4 linked regions of the Homo sapiens genome follow. The protein of the gene in region 3 interacts with the protein of the main gene of each other region in a biochemical or structural test. Each region holds a gene or a part of one and is shown on either strand. Other genes may lie near its edges.

Region 1 (5,587 bases), on a different chromosome or scaffold from region 3:
GTAATACCATGAACAGTAAGTTTTATTTCAACACCAGCAGAAAAGTCAGCAGATTCAGAGTAGTCAGGAAGGAAAAATAGGCAAAGAACTTAGAAGACTACATGGTAACTCTTTAAGGACAGAAGAAGAAAGAGGGATTGACTGAAAATGTTTTACATGTGCCATTTTTCTTCAGGTTTTCTAGTTTATGGAGTTGCTTTGTTCTAATTGAGTGTGCAGGAGTCTGGAGATCTCATAAGGCTTCTGCTGTAGCCATCACAGTCTTTGACCTCTGTTAAGCCAAATATTGCTACACAGACCAAAAATACAGACAGACCAACAAAAATCAGAACCAGACTAGATTATCTTAGTGGCTGTAGCTTTTTAGTATTGCCTTAATTCTTTGGGACTTAAACATACACCAGATTTGGGACTCTGAACTGACCAGAATCCCCCTTGGGTAGGACTCAAATCCACAATCCTAGACAAGGTTGGGACTCTCATCCATAATCCTAAACCACAGGGTGGGACTTGAACCCACAGTCGTTATGATGAGTTCAAAGACAATTAAAAGTACAGGGGCATATTAACAAGGTACTCACCAGAAAGATGTCTAATCCAGAAGCAATTTATTTTCCCAAAAGAGAAGTGCCAAGGGAGCCTGAAGTGCCATGGTGGAGAAGAAGGAACCCTATAGTCGAGCCTCTGGACACCCTGGTCTAGGTGGCCACTCAGGATCAGTGCAGGGGGCCTGCACACCACTAGGGGCAACAGTACCTTGGACAGGCTGTTCGTCTCACCTGGGGTTCTAGTTTGTTAACAAGCAAAAGGGGCTCACTGCCCAATGTGCTAGAAGCCAACACTGACACCAAATTTTTGAAAAAAAGAAAAGCTTTATATTAAAAGTCACCTCTGAAGGAGACAGGAGTCAAGCTCAAATTTGTCTCTTTCTGCTGGCATTAAGGCAGTACTTTTATTAGAAAAGGTTCAGGGGGTGGATTCTGAGATTAGTAGGTGATTTGTGCAAGGAAAAGGGAGGTCTGGAAAGTCCTTGGGCATGCATAGTTATTTCTTCATGTTAACTCCTGAGTTGCATGGCAAATTCAGGGAGAGTTAGTATGAAACGTGGTGGAAATTCAGGCTATGACATCAGCAAGCTTATTCTGTGCAAGCTCCAGTTAGCCATCTTGGTTCCAACCAGTTTCAGCCAGGTTTTTCTTGATCTCACAAGTGGAGGGAGTTTCAGCGGCTTAAGTTTCTTTTCTTATCTGCTATCTTGAAACTCAAAAATTAAGTAACTGGTTTCTTACTCTTTGGGACTTTCCAGACCTCCCATTTCCATCCACCAATCACCTACTAATCTCAGAATCCACCCCCTGAATCTTTTCTAATAAAAATACTACCTTAATGTCAGCACAGAGAGACAGATTTGAGCTTGACTCTTGTCTCCTTGGGAGTTGACTTTCAATATACAAGTTTTTCTTTTTTAAAGAACTTAGTGTTTTAGTATTGGCTTCTATTGCATTGGGTAGTGAGCCGCTTCAGCTCTGTAACACTAACTCTGGTAGATAGCATCAGGATGAAATTGAATTGTAGGGCACACAGTTGGTGTCAGAGAATTAAGGAATTGAGTAGTGTCAGAAAACACCTCAGACTACACTTTCTCCCTTGGTATGGGAAGAGTTCAGTTTGTGTTTCTTTCTTCTTGAGTGACCCAACTCCAAGAAGATGCCACTTCTGGAGAGAGAATAGGGATCTCAACTTAGCCTGGCAGTGAGAATACGAATGGCAGCTGGAATGACCCAACAGGGGGCTAATGTTTGGGCTATTGTGTGTGTCACACTGACCCTGACCAGCCAAGTAGTCACAGCACCCACAAGCTCTTCCTGCCTGTCAGATGCCTCATTCCCACCTGTGATGCTCAGAGAGAAACCATGAGCCCTGAAAAACACCATATTGTTTTGTGATGTCACCTCTGGAATGTTCTGAGTGTTTTGGTGACCAACTTCTGCATAGGACCTATACCTGGCAACTCACATTGGTATGGCTTTTTACTTGAGATAGAAATAATCATCTTAGACAGGGAAGCAGGTACAGCTATCTCCACTTCAAAAACTTTCAAAAGCCTTTTACATCAACTATAATATCTAGCTTAATATCTGTTCAGAGATTGATAAACCATCATGCCAGATATCATCTACACGTTCTTTCAGACTCAGACTTTCATAATTGTACATAATTGACAAGAGAGAAATAAATGAGTAGAAAGTTCTGTGTTTTTTAGGCGAGCAATTGAGGCCCAGAGGATGAGCTGGGAAGCAGTAATCTTCTTCTTTTCTCGTTTCCACAGCACTCAAGGCCAAATTATACAAGAAAAAGAGATACCAGATCTGAAAGCCTAGAAATTCCAATCAGTGTGGTTCTACCTCAGGTAGGGATAATCACAGAAGGATGTAACCTATCAGTGTTAGCCAGAATAACCCCCCATCTCCTCCTTCAAAACTCTAGCAAGATGTTGTAGAATAAGCAGAGATAGTCAGGGCTTCAGATTATAGTTTGGGTTGGGTGCCAGCAGGCGGTGTGCTGGGGAAGGCCACATAGCCCCTCTGGGCCTTGGGTTCTTTTTCCCATGAATGAGGTGGCTGGGTCAGATGATCTGGTAAGAACTTCCAGTCCTAACATTCCAAGTTTCTATGATACACTGAAGTAACCCAGCCTTCTCAAAACGAGATCTTTTGGTGCTTAGTGTTGTGCAATCACTCTGGATTTCTGGGGGAGAATTAGAACTGGGACTTGAAATCAAATGCATAAGAATGAATCCATGAGAAGAAAACCTCATCCGTGGACAAAGGGGTACAGAGTTATTTGGAGCTGTCAAGAGAATTAAGCCCTGCTATGCATCAAAGACAGATGTAGGGGCCATGGGCATAGATGCTTTTTCAGTCAATGAATTGGTGAAGTCCTCACAGGCTATAGAGTCTCAGGTCTCCTCCTGCCTGCAATCAGCTGTTTCCTTAGTGGAGTCCTCTTGATTGAATTGTTTCTACTGCTGCTATGTCACAAAGGGGTGGCTTTGCTTTCTCCAGAGTCACCTAAGTCCTCATTGGAAGACCAGGGCCATGCAACCAGAGGGGTTGAAATGTAGGATGGAGGAATCCAATGCAGAGGTAACTATCTGAGAGCTCTGTCCAGGGATGTGTAGGAGGAGGATTGACCACTGGTGGGCATTCCATATATATAATTGTAACAATCTAGGCAAGTATGTTCAGCGGGAGGCAAAAATATGGAAGAAGAAAACATCCTGGATGTTTATTTTCACATTATCTTTATAACTTTGTAATGAACAGTCACTTTTCTGTTACTTTTAGCCCATGAATCTTAGCCAGAATATAAGATAACTTCCCCCTGATCATTCAACAAGATAACAAGCTGTAGGAATCTTTTTGGGCCTGATTCTTTCCACCTGAAATACGCAGGGAGTTGTGTTAGCCACTACTCCCCCAAGAGTGGGTGTTACTGCTGTGATTCCTCATAGCCCATATAAACCAATCTTTTCTTCCAGAATCCTGGGGCCCCTCAACTTTACATGCTTTGAAAGTACCTCAGATGGCTGAATGTTCTCTGATAGTAACCCTCGGTAATGTTAGCAAAGTTGGTGTTTAAGAAACTTGGTCAGGCAGAGGATGCCAACCTAGGGGTGGGTGTGAAGGAGGGGGTAGGATTTGAAAGAGTAGTGGTCATGTGATAGAGAAATTGGAATGATGTTTCCATCAACACCCACCGCAACTTTCCCTCCCCAGCTCCCAGAAACAGCCCAACGATCAAGGAGAAGAGAAGGTGGTTTAAGACAGCTCAAGCTTGTCTTGGGGCTGCCTGCTTCCTGTGCTGGAGGACCTGGTGCTGCTGCTGGGGTCTTGTGGGGCAGAGTGGGTGAAGAATGAGAGGATATCTCCTGTCTGGGCACGTGTACCTCACAAGGGCAGATGCAGCTTCGTGCGTACACCTGCCAAGAGGGCACAAGCCATGCACCAGGTTTTGGACACCTGTCAGGATGCTCAAGACTGGCACTCTGGGGGATGGGTGTGGGTGTCTACAACTAGATGATCCGAACCAAAATACCACCAGGCCTGCGAGAGGGACCAGTGTGCTCACTCTACCTCCCTAAATGAGATGGCACATGGCTTAGGGGACAGGGTTGATCTGGGAAGCAAGGAGAGGAAGAAATATTGACTGAATGTTGGTGCGATCATGTGTCGGGCATGGGGCCAAGCAAGTGTGAGGTAGAGATTTTACAGGTACAGGAACCGGCAACCCCAGGAACCCCACTAGTAATGGCAGAGCTCGAGGAAGGGGCTTGAACTCAAATCAGTGCCCATGTTCTCCGCTATACTAGGGCACATGCCAGTAAGCTGGGCCATGCTGCATCTTAGCTCCATGGTTCTTCTCTTGCTTTTTGGAGATGGAGTCTTCTCCCTGCATCTTAACCACTCATCTCTGGGCTTCTTATTTTGTATTTGCCAAAAGCTGCTCTATTCTGGGATGGAGTCCACTTTCCATTTGTTTCAGAAAGGACTTGTGGCAGCAGCTCTGTCTCCAGAGACTGCCTCTGGCTCCCAGCTGCCAGTCCTGCTGTGCGTTTGGGCTTCTCAATTACATTGGAAATGCCTGTGATCACTACATGTTATCACCCTAAGGTCTTTTCAGGACTCATTGATTTCCTGTTTTTCTTCCTCACATTAAATATTTGTGTTTTCTGATCTCTTTCCCTCCAGCACATTAACTTGCAAGCCATCAGTGTCATTTCCAGCCCAAGCTAGCTGATCTCCTGGTTCCTTTTGTATGTAATGATTCAGTTCTCACAGACTTTCGCGTTTCCCCAATGAACGTGCTCTGTGAATTTCATTAAGGCATTGTTTACTCCTAGATCATTAATGAAAGAGCTACACCAGGTCAGACTGAGCTCCAATAGCACCCTCCGGTGCCTCCTTCATCCTTCCCAGTTGCCTTTTCTCCTTCCCCTTTGTTTGTGCTTGTTACTCAGAAGCAGTGAATTCCTGCTGACAGCACCCGCCAATTTGAATTCCCAGGAAGATTTCAGGAGAGTCTCTGTTAAACAGTATGCAAACATACTACATATGACATCTTCTTTATCCTCTTTGCTGTTAACGTTGTAATTCTGTCAACATCAATCACATTTACCTTGTGAATTATCCTTTTACCTGTTAGTATTTATTAAAACCACCATTGACTTTGCCATGGTACCAGGGAGCTGAATTAATTTAAAATAATGATAATGAGACTCAGCCTTGTCATCTCATATGAAAATCAGTATCATATTTGGCTTTTCCTTCCAGAATCCTGGGTCCTCTCAACTTCACATGCTTTAATAGTACCTCAGATGGCTGAATGTTCTCTGATAGTAACCCTCAGTAATGTTGGCAAAGTTGGTGTTTAAGAAACTTGGTCAGCAGGCTTGGACTCTATCAGCAGTGTTTGGACATCTCTTCTGGGCTGTGGTAGCCACATTTTTCCAGGGGTGGAGAGACATCAGTGTGTGTCAGCTAAGCCTGGCTAGTTGCTGTTCAATCCCATCCCCAAACTCTTTGGA
Region 2 (5,009 bases), on a different chromosome or scaffold from region 3:
TAATATGATCTCCAGTTCATCCATGCTGTTGTGTGGATCAACATGTTGTTGCAGGATCTCTTTCTTTTTTATGACTGAATAGTACTCCATTGTGTATATGTACATTTTCTTTATCCATTCATCTGTTGATGTACGCTTGGGTTGCTTCCAAATCTTGGCTTTTGTGAACAGTGCTACAACAAACATGGGAGTGCAGATATTTCTTTGACATAGTGGTTTCCTTTCTTTTGGGTATATACCCAGCAGTGGGATTGCTGGATCATATGGTAGCTCTATTTTTAGTTTTTTGAGGAACCTCCAAACTGTTCTCCATAGTGGTTGTATGAATTTACATTTCCAAGTAACCAAAACTTTAAAACCTGTTCATTAAGTTGTTAAAATGAATTGTATAACCAGAATTTTAAGAGATACACAGATTTAAAATGATGCTCATTCTCCCCACTTAAAATTAGGCTTGGTAAGGAGGCTTTCTTGTGGTGACGAAGTTGCTTATTGGGAGGGAGAAGGTGAAAGACTGAATTTTTAAATCTCTGTACTATGTATGAACAGCAGGCTTCCTCAGGCTATTTTCTCTCATAACTGTGTTACCTTCAGTGCCTTCCTTATCCTTTTGTAGCTTTCAGATTTTTTTTGGTTTTTCAATGTTAGTAATATTAGGATTTCTGTTTAATTTACAACATCACTTATGAAAGCTTTTGGTCTGGAAAAACATCATGTTTGGATTCTTCATAGGGTTGGTAGGGGTGCAGCTGCTAGTTAACTAGTAATGTTTTTGCAATTTTAAGTATAATGAGTCCTCTCATCCCTTTAATATTTAAAATAAGTACCAGTTTTTCAAAACTTTTGTTGAATTGTAAGTTTAACTCAACAAACATAAATTGAGTCCCTATTATGACTTGGCCAAGCTTGAAAGCATAAACCATCACACTGGGAAATAAAGACTAATGTAACAAATAGCTTTTTAAAAAAGAGACTAAACATTTATATTGAAGTCTGTTGCATGACATCAGCCTCCAGCTACGTGGCTTGGTTCCCTGGATATTTCAAAGAAGGAAGATATATCTTTTTGTTTAATGTGTCATGGTAGACCCTGCTGCCTTGCATAACAAGGCTGCAGATACATTTTTCTCCATAGCTCAGTGGTAAGACACTGTCATTAATACCACTTCTCTTGCCATTGTGAAGCTTCTAATTTCTCATTGGCACAGAATACATGACCCAGTTTAAGAACAGTGCTGGGTGTAATTTAAGTACCAAAATTAAGTTGGGAAAAGCTAATTGAGCCCAAGAATGACAGGCAAAGGATGCTAGATCTTGATTCTCTGGAGAATAAGGAACAATTGAAGACTAAAGAGGGGAATTACCAGTAAAAGCAATGAAATAATTTAGGCATAATGTGATACGGCCCAGAGTTCTATCTGGCAATTGAATGAAATAGATTTGAGCAACATTTTGAAGAAAGCATATGCAGGAATGTTGACTTACTAAATAAGTGTTAAGGGAAGGCAAGAGTCAGAGATGGGCCAGGCATGGTGGCTCACACCTGTAATCCCAGCACTTTGGGAGGCCAAGGCAGGAGGACAGCTTGAGGCTAGGAGTTCAAGACCAGCCTGGACAACATAGCAGACCTTGTCTCTACAAAAAAGTTAGCCAGGTGTGGTGGCATGCACCTGTGGTCCTAGCTACTTGGGAGACTGAGGTGAGAGGATCACTTGAGTCCAGTAGTTGGAGCCTATGATGCCACTATTATTGTGCCACTGCTCTCTAGCCTGGGTGACAGAATGAGATCCTATGTTAAAAAAAAAAAGAAGGGGGAGGGCTAGGCGGAGTGGCTTACGCCTGTAATCCCAGCACTTTGGGAGGCTGAGGCTGGCAGATCATCCGAGGTTAGGAGTTTGAGATCAGCCTTGCCAACATGGCAAAACACTGTCTCTACTAAAAATATAAAAGTTAGCTGGGTGTGGTGGCATACGCCTGTAGTCCCAGCTGCTTTGGAGGCTGAGGCAGGAGATTTGCTTGAACCCGGGAAGCAGAGGTTGTAGTGTGCTGAGATCATACCATTGTACTCTAGCCTGGGCTACAGAGCAAGACCCCATCTGAAAAAAAAAAGGAGATAGGAAGATATTGAGGAAAGTACTGAAACAGCTGGCCATTGAACAGGTCATCTTTAGGGAAAAGGATTGGTTGTTTGATAAGAAGCTTTGATAAGAGGGAGGAACAGATTTGGGGGCAGTTTGGGATGGATAGGGCTAGGTTTGCTGAAGGGGAAGCAAGGAGATTGAGGTATAATGGCGGGCTGGTACATTTTAGATCTGGAGGCAGAACAGCAGTTCTAAGGTAAGGGCTCTTTTAGGGTTGTTCATGGATTGGAGGGCAAATGAAGTTAAAGACAAAGGTAGTATAAGATGCTTTTCTTGAGAGGGAGAGATGTGCGGAAAATAGCATGAGAGTAACGCTGAGGTTGTTTATGAGAGTGAAAGTGGAGTTCTTCACAATATCAGAAGCTTAAGGATGTTGAATTTAAAGCTACATAGTACTTCAGGTTTTATTCTTGCTTCTAAATTCCAGTGTTTAGAAGGATTGTCTTGAAGATATGGACAACCAAAGTGATTTTTCCTGTATAAGTACCTTACTAGCTGATTGCACCACTAGAGCTCCAAAAATTATCATTTATTTCTAAAGAAGTTCTGTAGTAGAATTGAATCGGATGGCAGTGGGACTGAACATTTTGTAACTTTTTTTTTTCTTTTTTAATGAACGTGGAATAGGAATTTGTCATTCAAGAAGCTTTAGAAGAACATGACAAAAATGGTGATGGATTTGTTAGTTTGGAAGAATTTCTTGGTGATTACAGGTGGGATCCAAGTAAGTCACCTGGGAGAATGTGAAAAGAGAAAAGGAATTGAAGAAAGACATTGAAAGACAGCCTTGCTCATTGAAAGCTCTCTTCAACAGGAAATGTAATGAGGATCTGTGTCTGATCCTACTTGTTTCGTTAACTGTAATACAAGTTCAACAAATGGATTTATAGCTTATCTGAGAACGCTGTCTTGCTTACTTTTACTTCCGTGTCTAGAGTCAAACATTTTTCTTTCTTTTCAAACAAATCTAATTTTATTATCAGTTTAAATGGGGAAGGAAGTAAGGTAGATATTTTTAAACAAAATCCTGTGCTGTTGCAGGTGGATCTTAAAAGAGATAGAAACATAAAACACTACAAATACTGGTGTAAACACAGTATCAGAAGCTTAGTAGAAGGTGAATAAGTGTTTGAAATTAAGAGTTTGCTTTTATATAAGCAGCTGTTTTTTCAGAATTGTTGCTTAAAGACACCAAACAATGCCATTTTTAAATTGGTCACCAGTTTTACTTATTCTGATTGTCACTTTAAAATTACACATGGCATTACTTTGTGAAAACATGTAAGAAACTTTGTATAGAAACATGATATACAGTAAAACATTACCCACCTCACATCTGGGAAAACTAGATATCGGAACAAATAGCAGTTAACAAAATTACTAGTTTGTGAAAACATCCAATGATTTTAAAACTGGGTTGTTTAGACTCGTGTCACTTTTGAAAATGACTATATATTTGTTCTTATGTCAGGACTTTTCAGTTAAGTAGTTCTGTTTTATTGGGCTTTCTTTAGTAAACTTTAAATTCACTTCCTTTATTCTAGGGATATACCAAACTTCTTATTGGATACATGTGATATTCTTGTGTATGTATATTTGTGTTTTTTTATATTAAGCTGCAAATGAAGATCCAGAATGGATACTTGTTGAGAAAGACAGATTCGTGAATGATTATGACAAAGATAACGATGGCAGGCTTGATCCCCAAGAGCTGTTACCTTGGGTAGTACCTAATAATCAGGGCATTGCACAAGAGGAGGTAAGTGTTACAGAACAACTGTTTCTCTCCACCCCCTCCCCCCGAATTTGGTGCTGTTGATAGGAAAAGAAGTTCAAAATCTTAAGCCAAAGAAAGAAGTAATGGAGTTATTTGGGATTGATGCATTACTATGTTTTGAATTTACGAACTGTTTAGATTGTCAGGGAGACGAGGAAGTTAAGATTGTGTCATGTATTAATTTGAGAGTACAGTGAATAGAATAATAGTTTGTATTTACCTACAGGGACTCAAAACAGGTTATAATAATTTTTCATTGCCTTGATATATCCTGGATTGGATTTGAGTGGAGAGAGACAGAACCCAGCAGAAATGAAGAAAGGAGATAATGGGAAAAGCAGTAGACGGACCTGGTTACAACGTGTAACATTTTTAGATACTTAAACAATAATGAGTACTTGTACACCTGGATGATTTTGACAAGTCAAATCACATTAAATTGTGAACATCTTGCTGAAAATACTTATTACACTTGACACTTTTTTGTTTTATTTTGAAGGCGCTTCATCTAATTGATGAAATGGATTTGAATGGTGACAAAAAGCTCTCTGAAGAAGAGATTCTGGAAAACCCGGACTTGTTTCTCACCAGTGAAGCCACAGATTATGGCAGACAGCTCCATGATGACTATTTCTATCATGATGAGCTTTAATCTCTGAGCCTGTCTCAGTAGAGTACTGGCTCCTTTTATAATTTGTTACCAGCTTTACTTTTGTGATAAAATATTGATGTTGTATTTTACACTCTTAAGTCTTAACCACAGTCAGAATTATCTTAATGTAGATTATAATTTTGGTCTTTTAGGAAAAAAAAACAAAAATCTGATATTTATTTCAAAATGTATTGAAGCAACAAAATATTAATATTGTGCCATATGACAACAAAGTCTTTCCTAAATACTCCATCTGTTTAGTACTGTATTGTGGAATATTTGAGTTCTATTTCCATACTTGAAAACATGGAGGATTTTAGAGATGCCTGAACAATATTATTTAAGTAGTATGTGACCGAGCTATAAATTTTTGTTTTTGTTCTAAGTAGATTTAATTTGGGAACTGACAGGACAATGTTTTTAGGTTTAGCATTTTGTT
Region 3 (5,009 bases):
TGTGCTCAATAGTTACATGTGAATTTTCTGTTATCTTGTCATTATAACAATACTGAAGCAAGAAATGTAAGATTATGTTTTGTTCTTTCAGTCTTCTCTTCCTCCTCACAATCTTCTTCACTTTTTGCAAATCTCCACCTGGTATAGTTATTTGAACATAGGAAATTATAATCATAGCATGTGATTTTATACATCTGGAGAAAGATCGTGGAAGCAACCTTTCGCTTGTTAATGAAGGAAGCTAGAACTTAAAGGTTTTCTGGGGAAAGATATGAGTAAGGAAGCAGAATTATGGTACCTGAGAATAGGCACTTAGTAAATCTAGGTGAAAGCAGTTTTATAAAAATTGGCATTATGAGATGAATTGAAGAGTTGATGACAGAATGGCATATTTAAAATGTAAAGGGAAAATTCGCTTCTAATGTAGACCAATGACAGTTTCATTACAATGATGGTGTTTGTTTTTATATTTTTGACTAAAAAGCTGGAGAAATGTTGCAACTGAGTTTTATTTTACTTATTACTAATTTTTGTTAAAATTCCAGAGAAGATAGAAATAGTCTGTGTTTTTCGTGCCGTAATTTGAAGTGCCTGTGGATTTTAAATGATACTCATTTTCAAAGTATTAACATATTAATGTAATATACTGATATTGTGATTATAACTATATTTTGCTCTCATTTTGTCATATCCTACAAAATCCTTAATACAGAATTTCTTATCTGGGTAACTGGTTACATCTCAATGTATTAAATAATAGGTGTTGTACAAAAATAGCCACTTAAGAGTGTAAATATTTGTTTGAATTAGTTTCAAAGGGTACCTTTGTAAAAGGAGAGAGAAAAGATAGAAGTGCAACATAGTTTATTTCATTACAAACTGGTTTGTACATCTTTCAAGTTCCTGTAATTTCAGAGAAGTGTTGATGTTAAGTTGGAAGTTAAGAATAGTATATTATTGCTTTTATTTAAAATAAATGTCAACTACTAATTTGTGATTCATATAAAACTTTATTTTGAATTGTATTGTATTTAATTTGAACATGTGGGGAGTAATACAACGTACTGTTAGCATTTTGAATATTAATTTTCGGAGTTACAGTTATCTTAAAGTCTTACAAATATATGAGCAGTTTTGAAAAAGAATTTTTGTAATTATGGTAGTAATTATTATACATCTGCCAACATTTATTAGCTGACTTGTACTATATGAAAATTCATTATGTGAAAAAATAGAAACTCATTATTTGTATTCTGGCTTGTGGGTTTAAATTTATTGCAATTGCTTCTTAAAAATAGAAATGAAAAGACCAATGAGAAGGCAAAATAAGATAATAACTGATAATTATTTTATCTAGAAATCTGACTTTTAAAATTTTTTAGAAAATTAATATTTTTATTTTGTCAACATGTGAAAGCCCATAAATAATTACCTATTCCATAAGAATGTTTTAGACTGTTTTGAAAGCTTCCATGTAATTGATATTTTTCTAGTTAATTTTTCATTACTCCATTATGAACAGAACTATGAATAGACTGACCCAGCTGGAAAGACTGGATTTGGGAAGTAACGAATTCACGGAAGTGGTAAGTTCTCATCAGTCTCACTTTCCCTAAGTTCTTATATTTAATGAAGAACAAAATATGAAAATTAATGTATTTCTCTTACAAATTGGATAAAGGTTTACTTTTTTTTCTTAGTTACAAGATATGAAATTTCTTAGCCAGAACTTTCCAGACAGATAGAAAAATTAACCAGACAGATGAACTTCTGACCACAAGTGAGCATAAAATGTAAAATCAATGAGAGGTCCATGGAAGAGATACTAAACAATTTTTAGCATAGGAAGCAGAAAATTTGAGTGATTATAAGTGGGAAACATCAGTCTGGAATGCAGCAGGTAAAAGTAGTTCTGAATCAGAGAGAGCTCCATGGGGTATTGCTTGTTAACTTATTCAGTAATAAGATACTTCTCTATAATGTTACTTAATAGCTAAGGGGAAAATCATTGAGTGAAACAACTGTTATTTTTGAAGTGGTAATGAGAACCTTTTTGTTTGTGCTTTGTATGCCAAGTGCGCTATGAAGCTGACTCTAAAAGGAAAGGAGTAGTGTTTAAGTAGCTTTTGTCTTTAGTGAGTTTTCCAAAAGAACTCAGAAAATAAGCTAGATTTTTTTTTTTTTGAAGAGGAACTCATCCAGCTGAGTATCATTATTAAACTTTTAAATTAGTTTACAAGTTTGTTGTTTAAAAGTGTGGTAGCTCTCAAATGATGGTTTTAAGCCTAGGAATTTCTCAAAACTGCTTGCTATAGTATTGCCCTGTGGGTATTATATTAATATTATAAATTTCAGCTGAGGTTTGAGGAGGAACATGGTACTTTGGAGTACCTCATTCTCTAAAATACATGCTGTGCTTCCCAAATTATTTATCTGTTACGTCCTTTCTCAATATTTGTTCTGTATGAATCCGTTTCCGTATTAACTATTTCAAAAATCTCGTTCATTTTAAGAATCCAACAAGCTTTCAAAATCGTCATTAGTTTTTGTACCATTTTGGTCTTCCAACATTATACACTTTTTAAAACTTACAGTAGAATTTAACAGTAATGCACAAAAGGAAATTTCTTTTAATCCAAGTTACATCTGGGATTCTTATCTATATTTATATGTTAACAGTAAATCTGATTGGCATGCCTTTTATATATGACTGTTAACTATGGTCATTAGATGTGATAGTACTCTGTGCCATCACATGATCATTGATTGCAGATGGCTTTGTGAGGTGATAGAAATAACTTTGAAGAGGGCAGACTTGAAGGGACAATGCCCAGGAGCAAATTTTGCCTGGATATGAAGGTCTGCCACAACACTTGGATTAATTTTGATGTCCTCAACACCATATTATAAAGAATTTTCTACCATGTAATTAGAAGTTTTTACTAGAGGTTTAAATTACAGTATATTTGTATCATGTAGTTATGACTTTGTCTATTTACCTTTCCCTGATTATGGACATTTAGGATGCACGTTGTCTTTTATCTCCTTCTTAATGAATGTCACCAGGGAACATTTGTAATTTTTCTGTTTTCTAAAAGCTGTATCTTCTTACTGATAATGCATGAGTGCATATTTTTATTGTATACTTCTAAGCAGTGAGTCCTATTTTTTATTTCTTTACAAATTATATAAAAACTTGCCCCTGTTGTGTAATCCAAAGCTTAAATGTGTTTTTTGTAATCTACTGCTATGGCATGTCTCTTTGATTTCTCCATTAATAATTTTCTATAATAATTTTACTGTAGTAACTATAATGCAGTAGAAAGGCTTACATCCTGGCTCTTCTTTTTTATTTTTCCTTCTCCCTGCTCCTTTTATTTAATGATTTGAAACTAAAGGTTATTAGAAATTCCCAGGGCTTCTTTTGCCAGATAAAGACATTCATAAAAATTAATTGAATTACTGCTATCCCCTACCCTAATCCCAACAGCCTGAAGTACTTGAGCAACTAAGTGGATTGAAAGAGTTTTGGATGGATGCTAATAGACTGACTTTTATTCCAGGGGTATGTATATGAGATTTTAAATGGCATCACTTATTTCTGGCTCTCCTTTGCAGTTTTGTGAATTGTACCTTTTATAATTACTTTTAATTAATAAAAAAATTGAATTATTCTTTATTAAACAGAAGCAAATTACTTTTTTTCATGAGCACATTCTTGATTATAATCTAAGAATTCTCATAATAAACATTTGTATGTCTCCTTTTAATACTGTTGAGTGTGTCCTTTCCAATGGTATCACTTGAACTTACGTCCCAATTTGCTTTGCCCAAGGAATTGGTAAACTAGGATATTTTTCATGAACTTTCTGAATTTTTTTTTTTTTTTTTTTTGAGACAGAGTCTCGCTCTGTTGCCCAGGCTGGAGTGCAGTGGTGCGATCTCGGCTCACTGCGAGCTCCGCCTCCTGGGTTCACACCATTCTCCTGCCTCAGCCTCCTGAGTAGCTGGGACTACAGGTGACCACCACCATGCCCAGCTAATTTTTTTTTATTTTTTAGTGGAGACGGGATTTCACCGTGTTAGCCAGGATGGTCTCGATCTCCTGACCTCATTATCCGCCTGCCTCGGCCTACCAAAGTGCTGGGATTACAGGCGTGAGCCACCGCGCCCAGCCGAACTTTCTGTTTTAACAACTGACAAATTGTTTACTCCCATAAAAAAAACCACAAGAATCCCCATATATGCTATTTCCTTAGGAGGTAATGGATACCTGAATTCCCAAAGAATATGTCCTTTGTCACTTCTGCTATGCTACAATTAGTAGAACATCTTAGCTATATTACTGAATACATTTCTAATGGCATTTAAAAAACTACCTGGGAGTCTTCTTTCTTGTATTAGCATTTAATTTTGAATTAAAACTTGGTATCAAGTTTATTCCCTAAACTTTTTACAAATTACTAATGTTAATAGAGTCATTAGATTTTCTTTTTTTACTTATAGTTTATTGGTAGTTTGAAACAGCTCACATATTTGGATGTTTCTAAAAATAATATTGAAATGGTTGAAGAAGGAATTTCAACATGTGAAAACCTTCAAGACCTCCTATTATCAAGCAATTCACTTCAGCAGCTTCCTGAGACTATTGGTTTGTATTGCTTTCAAATTCATGTAATTTTTATTAAAATAAATTCGAGACTTCCACATAATCTCAAATTTCACTTGTTATGAGGTAGTTATACTTCGTTACCACAGGAACGGATTTTATTTGAATTTTTCCTGGTGTGATCAGTTGTACAGTTTGCTCCTTTGTTGACATTACTGTTTTTTATTTACTCTAAGGTAATCTCATTTTTATTTCTAATATATTTAAATTCTTTAAAATAAGTTAACTTATGCAAATTTGGCTTAACTGTTAGCTTTTATTGTCATAGCTTTTATTTTGGTAACTTTTTTCAGTCCTGTTTCATTACAGACACTCAGACAAGAAAACAGATCAGTTGAAC
Region 4 (5,009 bases), on a different chromosome or scaffold from region 3:
GAAATGACTTGTATGGGAAAACTTTATTCACCTACACTTACATTCTAGTTTAAGAAAGGAAAAATGAAGGAAGGAAGGAAGGGAGGGAGGAAGGGCAGACAAATCTGTTTAGGTTGATGCTAGGTCAAGATGCTTGTCTTGAAGAGGCTCATAGCAAATAGTGATGAACTGAAGAGTTGAAAAGAGGGCGTCAGAACAGAATCTGGAAAGCAGGCCTCACTGAGTAGCCTTACTGTATTTATTCATTTATTTAACAAACATTTACTGAATGCCTTTCATGTGCAAAGCACTGAGGATACAATTATTAATATACACAAACTTAAGAGGCAGATGTACTCCACATTACAATGAAAATATTTTAGTATATTTTAAAACTAAATAAATGGATTTTTGATGACTATGGCTATTTCCCATCGAAAACTCCTACACTGTTGACAATACTGGAAAGACCCAAAATGTAGGACCCATATCTTCTTAATCATTAGATTGTCATGTTGTGTCTGTTCAATCAAAAACATATACATATTTTAAAATTTTATTACCCTAAGATATCACAAATGACTATTAAATGATCTGATATTTCACTAGTAAATTTAATTCAATATATGAATTTAAGTCAACAAACATTAGAAACCCATTATTTGCAGAAAGTGATAGCTAATCTATTATTTCATAAACTATTATTTTCTGACAAAATACATTTAGTCATTGTTTTATTCATATTTGACTTAAGTAAGTGATTTTCAGAAATGTGAATAACCAGATAAATTATTAAAAGAATTAAGTTATTTCAGGCCAGGCGCAGTAGCTCACGCCGGCTGAGGTGGGCAGATCACGAGGTCAGGAGATGGAGACCTTCCTGGCTAACACGGTGAAATCCCGTCTCTACTAAAAATACAAAAATTAGCCGGGCGTGGTGGCACGAGTCTGTAGTCCCAGCAATTCGGGAGGCTGAGGCAGGAGAATCGCTTGAAGCCGGGAGGCGGAGGTTGCAGTGAGCCGAGATTGCGCCACTGCACTCCAGTCTGGGCGACAGAGCGAGACTCCGTCTCGAAGAAAAAAAAAAAAGAATTAAGTTATTTCAGAATTAGAAGGAGCTTTAGCAATTTATCTCAATTCATCTTTTATAAAGAACTTAAAAGACAAAGCCACATATGCAGAAAGGGACAAGGAAACACAGCAAATTGGTAGCCAAGATTATTCATTCATTCAAATATTCACTGTGTTCCTGTTATATAGCAAGCATCGTACTAAGTATATACCATATACTCAAAAAATTCAGAGCATGGTGGAAGAATTAGATATATAAACAGATAATTAAAATACCACAAGGTAAAAATATGCAGAGGGTATTATGATAACACCAAGGAGGCATATCTTATTTAAGGGAGCTCCCTGAGAGTGGTGACAACTGAGGTGAAGGATGAGTAAAAATTGACCAGTTGTTTTGTTTGGGTGAGTAGGTGAATGGGGGTGAAATTCCAGATATAGTAGAAATAGTACAGTCTATGGAAAAGCACACAGGGTTTGATGTTGCTGAACAGCAAAGTAGGAGACAGGGAATGTAAAGAGAGGAAGGCTGAAGCCAGATTGAGACTAAAACGTTATGTCAAAGAGTTTGGACTATATCAGGAAGTACCGAAGAGTTTAAAGGGAAAGACACATTAGTTGTGTAGCAGATGGGTCTGAGATTGATTGACCGATTGAGATAGGGTCTTGCTCTGTCACCCAGGCTGCAGTGCAGTGGTGCTATCCCAGTTGACTGCAGACTCAGACTCTTAGGCTCAAGTGATCCTCCCACCTCAGCCTCCTGAATAGCTGGGACTACATGCACAAGCTATCGTGCCCAACAAATTTCTGTAGAGATGGGGTCTTCCTATGTGCCCAAGCTAATCCTGAACTCCTAGCCTCAAGCAATCATCTCACCTCAGCCTCCAGTGTTGGGTTTCCAGGCATAAGCCACTGTGCCTGGCCTGAATATTAGTATTTTAAGGACAGAAGTGGAAGGAGACTGTGAAATAAACAGAAGAATGGCATAGATGTAGGGGAAGAACCAGGAAATAAGAGTATCGCAAAAGAGAAGAAAATGGAATTTCAAAAAGGGTAAGCAACTGCAGCAGAGACAAAAGGAGGATTCAGATACAGTGAATCAAGGGAAAAAATTATGTGGAACATGAGAAATGGCCACTGTAGGTCAAAAGAGTGTACTCCCTCCTACCCCCGGGATGGAACTGGTTTACTTTAGAAGACTTTTATGAGGCTTAAATGAGATAAGGTATGCAAAAGTACAGTCATGCATTGCTTAACTATTGGTGTATGTTTTGGGAAATGCATTAGGCGATTTCATCATTGTAGGAACATCAGAGTGTACTACACAAACCTAGATGGTGTAGTGTAGCCTACTACACACCTAGGGTGTATGGCACAGCCTATTGCTCCTAAGCTACAAACCTGTACAGCATGTTACTGAATACTGTAGGCAACTGTAACACAATGGTATTTGTGTATCTAAATACAAAAAAGGTACAGTAAAAATATGGTATAATTTTATAGGACCACTGTCATATATGAGTCCATTGTTGACCAAATCATCGTTATGTTGTACATGACTATAGTCTTAAAAACTATGAAGGCCAACACAAATATATAGTACTCAATGCCATTTCCAGCCAATATGAATAATATCTATGGATGCTCCAAGTAATCCATATGGGTAGATGATGAAACTAGCAAAAGTTAGGAAGATGATGTAACAATAATTAACATTTATTGAGCACTATTATGTGCCAGACACTTTACATGCAACCCGGTAAATTATTAATATATTAGTATCTCTGTTTTATAGATGAGGTAACCAAAGCTCAGAAAGGTTAAGTAATTTGACAAGGTTACACAACAAAGCTGAAGGCTAGACTATCTGATTCTAAAGCACATGCTGTTTCCACTTTACCATGCTAGATCTGATGGATCAAAGTGCTAAGACAAGACATCTTAGATTTTTTTTTTTTGTCTAACATTTATTTTTTTCTTTTTCCCCAGAATCCTGAAACACAATAGTCTTTTAGTAGAAGAGGTTTCTGAGTTCTTTCTAAGCAACTACTCTAAAAAATCAGTAGCTTCTAGGTGGAATCATACAGTTTCCATAAATGGTCTTATTTTCCTTTTCTGGTTGAAATTTAACCCAAAGAACTTTAAGGTCTAATGTGATGCAGTATTTACATACAAAACTCTTAATTCATCCTGCAAAATGGCCAATATGAGCAGATAAATAGGAAAGCTATGCATCTAATAAAGCACAGGGCCAGTGCTCTATAAAGATTATTGAGTTGTAAACATAAGATATCTATTCAAAAGAGACCACTGAAATGGTTGGGGCCAGGTTAGGCCAAAACTTAATGCATTAATGTAAACATTATCAGTATGTTTACGTACCTGTTGCCATACCACACAGATGCTTTCCAATTCCTACCACAGGTAGTTTTTCTTCTCTTAGCACAGGAATCTTGTCTGAAATGGAAATGAGAATTAACTGTCTAGTGAAATAAAGTACATATTAATGTGGCCTTCCAAAAGAAAGAACTAATTAGAGTCTCTGAATTTTAGCCTGAAAGAGACTCAAACAAAAATTATCACTTTATGGAACCCAACATATAACATAAGAACTTGTTTAGGGTTCATAACATCAGAAAGTTAATATATTCAGCTAAATAATTTTAAATACATTGATTTCTATACAAATGCTGGGTTGCTTTTCATGGCTGGATTAAAATTGGTGAATGGAAGAGGTTGCAAAGATATGTTTGCATTATTTTCTTTGGATAATCTGAAAAATAGAAAAGGTATAAAAAGGGCACTACAGAGGTTGATTGAGGAGTTTGTGTGTGTATGTGTCTGTGTGTGTTTTGTGTATGGAATATGAATCCCACAGTGATGACTTCTTTTGTACAATTTAAAATTCTAGGAAGTATCTTTTACACATTAGCTAGGCAGAGAAATATCTCATTTTCTTTCATGGTTTAGGTAAAGTCACGTTAACTGCAGGCAGAAGGCTAGTTTATAGTTTGAACAGACTCAAAATTAATTTAAACAGGACAAAGAAACAACAGAAGTACATATTATAAAACTTTTAAACTCTTCCCTAATATAACACTTCATTTCCACTTGATACTGAAAATTTTTAAAATTCTCAACCTTAATTCAATTTACATCTATTTAAAAACATTATATAAAACATTCTATATTAACAATGAATTGATTTGACTGTTTTCCCTGAAGCACAGTTCTGCATGATTGGATTTCTAAGCAACCTCAGAGTTTAAAACAGTTATGATTTATTTGTAGACCAATGGAAAGTTACACAACTTACTCAAACACAAGTGTTGAATATCAATTTGAAGTCTTTCAAACACTGAATTTTTCTTTCTGTGTTTTCCATCCACCTGCACAAACAGAACATTATTGTAATAATCACTTCTTACATTTAAAAAAGCTTTATGAAAATAAAAAGATTTTTATTGGTTTTCAAAATTCAGAGCAACAGAACATATTTAAAAATTAAGATTGTACATTCTTTGATGAGAACTTCAAAATATCACACTTTTTAAAAAAGATTTGAAAATGTTTATCAATTATTACATAGACATTATTTCCTTTAACCCTAAAAATTCCCAATTCACTGACAAAGGAACTGAAGTTCACAGATCTTAAGTGATTTATCTAAGATTGTCTACTAGCTCCTTTATCTTTGTCACTCCTGGTGTACTATTTTTGGTTCGCTCCTCTTCTTGCTCTCCTGAAAGATCACAACCATTCTAATCTATACCTATGTGCCCACGACCGGCTGATCTACATTTGTGGCTCAGGCCTCTCCAATGGGCATCAGACACATACTCAATTGTGAACTAGAAAGCTCTACTTCACCAGCAAACTGGACACATTCAGAACTGAACTCATTATTTCTGTCTCCAAAACCATCCTTCCTCTTGTGCCTCCTTCATTCCTTATCTCAG

What was found.
Region 1: the proteins of ERBIN (region 3) and CBY2 interact in a test that uses a peptide from one of them, tested with the Homo sapiens proteins (one large-scale study listed by IntAct).
Region 2: the proteins of ERBIN (region 3) and RCN2 interact in a test that uses a peptide from one of them, tested with the Homo sapiens proteins (one large-scale study listed by IntAct).
Region 4: the proteins of ERBIN (region 3) and TRMT13 interact in a test that uses a peptide from one of them, tested with the Homo sapiens proteins (one large-scale study listed by IntAct).

Annotation. Positions count from the first base shown.
Region 1 is NC_000013.11:45,700,446-45,706,032, forward strand, and holds the start of CBY2 (protein chibby homolog 2), read left to right. Parts: upstream 1-1,874; 5' UTR 1,875-1,945; coding exon 1,946-2,020; exon of another isoform or gene 2,021-2,070; intron 2,071-2,329; coding exon 2,330-2,410; intron 2,411-3,065; coding exon of another isoform or gene 3,066-3,146; intron 3,147-5,587.
Region 2 is NC_000015.10:76,944,653-76,949,661, forward strand, and holds part of RCN2 (reticulocalbin-2 isoform a precursor), read left to right. Parts: intron 1-2,768; coding exon 2,769-2,865; intron 2,866-3,757; coding exon 3,758-3,900; intron 3,901-4,417; coding exon 4,418-4,570; 3' UTR 4,571-5,009.
Region 3 is NC_000005.10:66,019,800-66,024,808, forward strand, and holds part of ERBIN (erbin), read left to right. Parts: intron 1-1,522; coding exon 1,523-1,586; intron 1,587-3,490; coding exon 3,491-3,565; intron 3,566-4,506; coding exon 4,507-4,651; intron 4,652-5,009. UniProt on the Homo sapiens protein: Acts as an adapter for the receptor ERBB2, in epithelia. By binding the unphosphorylated 'Tyr-1248' of receptor ERBB2, it may contribute to stabilize this unphosphorylated state.
Region 4 is NC_000001.11:100,142,567-100,147,575, reverse strand, and holds part of TRMT13 (tRNA:m(4)X modification enzyme TRM13 homolog), read right to left. Parts: intron 4,440-5,009; coding exon 4,367-4,439; exon of another isoform or gene 4,362-4,366; intron 3,508-4,361; coding exon 3,433-3,507; intron 1,050-3,432; coding exon of another isoform or gene 904-1,049; exon of another isoform or gene 1-903. UniProt on the Homo sapiens protein: tRNA methylase which 2'-O-methylates cytidine(4) in tRNA(Pro) and tRNA(Gly)(GCC), and adenosine(4) in tRNA(His).